Homo sapiens: one gene and its partner. The protein of the gene in region 1 interacts with the protein of each later gene in a biochemical or structural test. Each region holds a gene or a part of one and is shown on either strand. Other genes may lie near its edges. The genes, in order: MND1 and RAD51.

Region 1 (3,822 bases):
TTTTTTTTTTTTTTTTTTTTTTTTTTGGAGACAGGGCCTTGCTCTGTCTCCCAGACTGAAGTGCAGTGCATGATCAGGGATCACGGTAGCCTCAACCCCCGCAAGCTCAAGTCATTCCCCCACCTCAGCTTCCCAAATAGCTGGGACTACAGGCACATGTCACTACACCCAGCTAGTTTACTTTTACTTTTATTTTTTATAGAGATGGTGTCTCGCTATATTGCCCAGCTGGTCTCGAACTCCTGGCCTCAAGCAGTTCTCTCCCCTTGGCCTCCCAAAGTTCTGGGATTACAGGTGTGATTCACCATGTTTGGCCTTTATCATTTTTCATCACCATCAGACTAGGTTATCTTTTAATAGTTATTTATGCAACCATGTAAAGATGGATCCTGGAGAACTTGTAATGGAGTCTATTAGAGATATATTAATTTTTTACTTGGGAATGAGAGAGTAAGAATCCTTCCTTCCTGGCTTTGTGCATTTTAAAAAATTTATTAAAGATTATCATCTTTTTTGCAGGCACAGTGGCTCATGCCTGTAATCCCAGCACTTTGGGAGGCCAAGGCAGGAAGATAGCTTTAGGCTAGGAGTTTGAGATTAGCCTGGGCAAGAGAGTGAGACCCTATCTCTACAAACAATTTAAAATTAGCTGGTCATGCTGGCATGCGCTTTATTCAAGTTTTCTTCCTCCAGTTTTATTACCTTTCTACTTGAGAGGCTGAGATGGGAGGATTCCTTGCACCCAGTAGTTCAAGGCTGTAGTGAGCTATGGTCGTGCCACTATACTCCAGCCTGGGCAACCGAGTGAGACCCTGTTTCTTGAAAAAGGATTAACATCTAGCAAGATAAAATTCATTATGTCTGGCATACAAGCAAAGACTACCAGGCCTGGAGAGAAGTGGGAAAACATTATCTATAATGAGCAGAATACTCCATCAGTCAAAATTGACCCAGAAATTAGGATCAGAAGACCAGAACATTTAAAAAGTTATTATAACTGTATTCCATATGTTCAAAAAGTTAAGTGGAAATAGAGAAGATATAAAAAAGACCCAGGTCAAACTTTTGAACATGAAAACTACAATGTCTGACATGAAAAATACACTATGGTAAATTACCAGCAGATTAAATTTTGCAGAAGAAAGAATTGATGTTAGTTGAAGATATAGCAATAGAAATATCCAAAATGAAACACAGAAAATAAAGAATTTAAAAAATATGAAAATGGGGCCAGGCGCAGTGGCTCACGCCTGTAATTCCAGCACTTTGGGAGGCCAAGGTGAGTGGATCACTTGAGCCCAGGAGTTCGAGACCAGCCTGGACAGCATATGGAGTCCTTGACTCCCATATAAATAAAATAAAAATTTTAAAAATATGAAAATGGCATCTGAGCCTTAAGACAACTTCAAGGGACCTAATATATGTGTAATTACAGTCCCAAATGGAGTATGTTTTGGTGGGAGGAGAGGTTGCTGAGCCAGAAAAATATCTAAAGAAATAAAAGCTAAAGTTTTTCAAATTTGATGAAAAGTATAAACCCACAAATCCAAGAAATTTAAATATTTAAGTAGTAGATGCCAGTGATCCCCTTATCACTAACTTTAGAGAACTTCTTAAGACTTTAACCTCTACTCACCCCAAATCTCCATTCCTCAATGAAATTATTGTTTTTAAAGTGCACTTTTTGATAGGGGTTTCATGGGATTTCAGCTATCATGTTAACGCAGAACAGATTATACTGGATTAAAGGCTTATGAGTTTCACAAATTGATTTTAATAGGATTTGGTTCTTAGTAGCATGGCTATTGCCCCCCATATTATATTGCTCAGGCTTATCTCTAAGTCTGTCATGATTTATTCAGAGAACAATTTGGTGACTGTAGCCATAACCATTTGTTCATATGGGGCATGGCTATGTATTTTCTTATTTCTCACTAACACCCATGAGAAATACATATATTTAATTATGCCAGTTGAATTATTGATATCATTAAGCAAGTATTTAGAAGACTAATTGCTTTGGAGGCAGAGGCAGGCGGATCACTAGGGGTCAGGAGTTTGAGACCAGCCTGGCCAACTTGGTGAAATGCTGTTTCTATTAAAAATACAACAATTAGCCAGGCATGGTGACACACACCTGTAATCCCAGCTACTCTGGACGCTGAGGCAGGAGAATCGCTTGAACTGGGGAGGCGAAGGCTGCAATGAGCCAACATCATGCACTGCACTCCATCCTGGGTGACAGAGCGAAACAGTCTCAAAACAACAACAACAAACATTAATTGCAATATCAAAGAAGTGATATTTAAAAGCAACAATTCTTTAAACAATTTTTTAATTTAGCTATTCTGACCATTATTCAAATGTGACCAGATAAAACATGTTAGTAGAAATTAAATTCCCACAAAAATACTTGAAAATATCTTAGAGGTACTTAAGTAATTTTCTTAGAAATAAATGCCAGGATGACAGTAAAAAGGTGGAGTAAGGACTTCTGAAACTTTGCCCTTTCAGAAAACTTGCAAAAATTGTTGTAGTCAACTTTTTCAGAACTCTGGAAATTAACCAAAGGCTTACAGGAGCCTACTGAGGAAAATTAGCAGACTCTGAGTAAGAATAATGAGCTTTGTGGTATTGAATTTGCCTATACTCATTTCCCAGTCTCACCGCAGCAGTGACCTTGAAGGATAACAACCCTGCATTCCTACTGTCTAGAGGAACAAAATGCCCCTGGAACTCTGTAAGAGCCTTGATCCCAAAGAATTGTCATTATTTACATGTTTGGTGGTTCCCTGGAGGACACCAATAGGAAAAACTGTCTTTATTTGATCTGGCCTCGGGTATGCCCAATGCTAAAATCCTCTCTGTGGGGAGTGTTTGTCTATAACAATTATAAACAATAATTTTAACTTCTCAGTTAACCATTGTTGATGAATAACAGTTGAGGCAAACAGTAGACTAATCAAAAAGCTTAAAAGGGCCAGATGCAGTGGTTTATGCTTGTAATCCTAACACTTTGGGAAGATTGCTTGAGCCCAAGAGTTCAAAACCAGTCTGAAGAAAATGGCAAAACTCCATCTATGTAAAAAATTTAAAAATTAGGCATGGTGGCATGTGCCTGTAGTACTAGCTACTCAGGAGGCTGAGGTGGGAGGATCACTTGAGCCGAGGAGATCAAGACTGCAGTGAGCCATGATCGTGCCACTCTGCTCCAGCTTGGGTGACAGAGTGAGAACCTTCTAAAAAAAAAAGGAGAAACTAAATGATATGTTCATGAGAGCCTTGAAGAGCAACATATTCCTGGAAATATAGAAGGCCTACATGCATGCTTAGGGTTGTTCACATTCTCAGTGAAGACCTGGGACAGTCCCCACATCTAGCTGACCTTGATACTCTGTGCAAGCAAGAAGCAAAGACTAAGTCAGAGTTATAAACTGCCTTGCTGAGAACGCATGTCGCAGCACATGCAAACCCTCTTAGCAAAGACGGCTGAGCCCTTTGGAAAAGAGAACCTCTTCATAGAGGTTTAGTCCAAGTGTTTAAGGAAATCTCTGTTCAATTAATAGCTTGACCACTAAGCTAACCAAGTAGAGACTTAAGTGGCCACACTTAAGAACACGGACTTTACAGATTGAGTTCAGGAAAGTTACTAAACAAATTGTAACAACTCTACGAGCAACAATCCTGGGGAGGGGGAAGAATCTGCTTTCTAGGGTTGCTATGAGACAGAATCTTGCTCTGTAACCCAAGCTGGAGTGCAGTGGCACAATCTTGGCTCACTACAACCTCTGCTTCCCGGCCGGGTTCAAGTGATTCTCGTGC
Region 2 (3,822 bases), on another chromosome or scaffold:
TCCCAATCCAGTAACAGAAGATGGCTATGATGGCACTGGGAGGGCAAGGTAGAAAGGGCCAAATAAGCTGGAGAACAGAGCATGCAATCCATCCCCATGATCTTACCCTGGGAGCTTGTCCACTATCCTGTTGTCAGTCTACCTACCTATTCCCAATCATCTGTGGCCTTTCCTTTGCCAAGGAAGTCTATTCAATTGGAAAAGAATCCCCTGTCATGTTAGCACTTAATATTACCTGGAGGTAGGAGAAAGGAGAACTTCGTTCATCTTATTTCCTGGGGACTTAGTCCCCAGAGTGTTAATATTTCCTCCTCTCCAAGAAACTGAGGCAGATTCTGCTCTCTGTCCTCTTGGCCACTGGTTCCAAGTCTTTCTTTAGGCATGACCCTCTTTTGTTGTATATGTGTCCTTTGCTCCTTCCATGGATTCCCATGATGTGAGAGATTTTATCTGCCAAATAGTAACGTAATTTTTCCCTTCCAAATTAACAAAGCCTTCCGTAACTGTATACACTAAAGTCAGTGCCCTAAAGGTTGGGAAAATCATGTCTTCAGAGTGTACCGTGCTAAACGCTTTACATGAATTATTTTATTTAGTTTTTAAAACAATCCCATAAGGTCGGTTTTATTTACATTTTACAGAAAAGGAAACAATATTCTCAGTCACATAGTAAGTGGAAGAACCACTTATATAAAAGAAGTATATGAAAATGCATAGAAAATAATCTGGGAAATTATTTCTGGGAGATGGAGAGTGGTGAAGAGCTTTCAGTTTTTTCTCCGCCACTTCCTCTTTTTTTTTTTAGACAAAGTCTCACTCTGTCACCCAAACTGGAGTGCAGTGGCATGATATCGCTCACTGCACCCTCCGCCTCCCAGGTTCAAGTGATTCTTGTGCCCCAGCCTCCCGAGTAGCTGGGATTACAGGTGTGCACCACCACGCCCCACTAATTTTTGTATTTTTAGTAGAGACAGGGTTTCACCATTTTGGCCAGGCTGGTCTCGAACTCCTGACCTCAGGTGATCCACTCGCTGGGATTACAGGTGTGAGCCCCCATGCCTGGCCTCTCTACTTCTTTTTTTTTTTTTTTTTTTTTGAGATGGAATCTCGCTCTGTCACCCAGGCTGGAGTGTAGTGGCACGATCTCGGCTCACTGCAAGCTCTGCCTCCCAGGTTCACGCCATTCTCCTGCCTCAGCCTCCCAAGTAGTTGGGACTACAGGTGGCCGCCACCACGCCCGGCTAATTTTTTGTATTTTTAGTAGAGACAAGGTTTTACCATGTTAGCCAGGATGGTCTCGGTCTCCTGACCTCAGGTGATCCACCTGCTTCGGCCTCCCAAAGTGCTGGGATTACAGGCGTTAGCCACTGCGCCTGGCCTCCGGCCCTCTACTTTTATATTGTTTAGATTTTTAATATAAGCATATAGTTGTTTTGTAATTTCAAAAAAAAATTCTCAAAGATAAGAAAGAAAATTTGGGCTGGGTGCAGTGGCTCACGCCTCCCAGCACTTTGGGAGGCCAAGGTGGGTGAATCACCTTAGGTCAGGAGTTAAAGACCAGCCTGACCAACGTGGAGAAACCCCATTTTTACTAAAAAATGCAAAATTAGCCGGGCGTGGTGGTGCATGCCTGAAATCCCAGCTACTTGGGAGGCTGAGGGAGGAGAATCCCTTGAACCCGGGAGGCAGAGGTTGTGGTGAGGCAAGATCATGCCATTGCACTCCAGCCTGGGCAACAAGAGCGAAACTCCGTCTCAGAAAAAAAAGAAAGAAAAAATTTGGTTCTCCTAGGCCTTTAACATAAAATGTTCTAAAGGATTTTCCTCATAATTTAAATGGGAATTATGACTCCAAAGTAGATTTCTAGAGTAGAAATTACCCTTTAGCATCATTCACTTAAACTTTGTAGAAAAATTCAAAGGTATCTGGTATGGAATGGGTAGTCTAAAGCAGAGATTTCCTTGAGTGGCTCATAAGACAGTTTTCATGGCATTTCATTTACTTCTCTTTTCTTTCCTTTTTGTTTTCTCTTTAAAATTCTTTCTACTTATTTTTCTGTTTTCTCCAATTGTTCATTTTAAACATCTTGTTTATACTATTGGAGTAAATATGTTTTTTTCTTCTTTCTTGCTCACACTCGAAATTTGCTATAGACACTCCGAGGGCATTGACTAGTCCCTTTAGTACCCCTAAAGAATGAACTGCTCAATAAAGTGAAGTATAAGTTTGATATAGACATGCTAAAATTAACTGGGCTTTGGATCATGGCCCATTATTGATTAAAGCTAAGGTAAATGGTCTTCCAAGTTTCTGTACTTTTGAATTGATCAGTCTTGTGTTGGTATGCAGTTCTAGAATTTTATTACTGGCCAGGTGTGGTGGCTCACGCCTGTAATCCCAGCACTTTAAGAGGCCGAGGCGGGCAGATCACTTGAGTCCAGGAGTTCAAGACCAGCCTGGGCAATGTGGCAAAACCCTATCTATAAAAAAATTTAATCGGGTGTGGTGGTGCACACCTATGGTCTCAGCTATTTGGGAGGTGAGATGGGAGGATCTCCAGAGCCCGGAAGGCAGAGGTTGCAGTGAGCCAAGATTGCACCACTGCACTCCAGCCTGGGCGGCGGAGTGAGACCCTGTCTCCAAAACAAAAAAAGGCCAGGTGCAGTGGCTCGTGCCTATAATCCCAACACTTTGGGAGGCCAAGGCAGGCAGATCACCTGAGGTCAGGAGTTCAAGACCAGCCTAGCCAACTTGGTGAAACCCTGTTTCTACTAAAAATACAAAAATTAGCTGGGCGTGGTGGCATGGACCTTTAATCTCAACAACTCAGGAGGCTGAGGCAGGAGAGTTGCTTGAACCCAGGAGGTGGAGGTTGCAGTGAACCGAGATAACGCCACTGCACTCCAGCCTGGGCAACAGTGAGACTATCGCAAGAAAAAAAAAAAAAAGAAGAAAAGAATTTTATTACCTACTTTGGGCTATATTTCTAAGCAGTCCAGTTCTGACAGGACTAGCTGTATGTACTGAGACACAATCAGCTTTACATATTTTTCTAGCTGTATTTCTATTAATATCAGAAGGGAATGCCTCCTTCCTACCACTGTCATTTTTAAATGTTTTTTTCCCTTTGCCTTGGAGGAATTATAAAGATGTCATGAGGAGCTTGGTCAGCTGTATCAGAAATACAATGTTCATTTCTACTGTTGTTTTTGTTCTCTATAGCTTCCCATTGACCGGGGTGGAGGTGAAGGAAAGGCCATGTACATTGACACTGAGGGTACCTTTAGGCCAGAACGGCTGCTGGCAGTGGCTGAGAGGTAGGTTACTGGTTTAGATAAGAGAGACTATGGCTACACTTATCAATGTAGTGATTGCCAGGGTTAGTTTGGCCGAAGAATGTCTCTTCTATAACCCCACGTCCCAAAGTTGTATGTGTGGTTCAAAAGAATGACTTCCTTAGTAGAAAAAGGCATTCTTTTTTTTTTTTTTCTTCAGATGGAGTCTCGCTCTTGTCACCCAGGCTAGAGTGCGGTGGCGTGATCTCAGGTCACTGCAACCTCTGCCTCCCGGGTTCAAGCAACTCTCCCACCTCAGCCTTCCTAGTAGCTGGGATTACAGGCGCACACCACCACACCCAGCTAATTTTTTGTATTTTTAGTAGAGATGGGGTTTCACCATATTGGCCAGGCTGGTCTCAGACTCCTGACCTCAGGTGATCCACCTGCCTTGACTTCCCAAAGTGCTGGGATTACAGGTGTGAGCCACCGCACCCGGCCAGAAAAAGGCATTCTTTAGAGTTGCTGTCAGACTGGATTTAAAAAA

What was found.
Region 2: the proteins of MND1 (region 1) and RAD51 interact in far-western blotting, tested with the Homo sapiens proteins (one study listed by BioGRID).

Annotation. Positions count from the first base shown.
Region 1 is NC_000004.12:153,399,893-153,403,714, forward strand, and holds part of MND1 (meiotic nuclear division protein 1 homolog), read left to right. Parts: intron 1-3,822. UniProt on the Homo sapiens protein: Required for proper homologous chromosome pairing and efficient cross-over and intragenic recombination during meiosis.
Region 2 is NC_000015.10:40,715,583-40,719,404, forward strand, and holds part of RAD51 (DNA repair protein RAD51 homolog 1), read left to right. Parts: intron 1-3,222; coding exon 3,223-3,317; intron 3,318-3,822.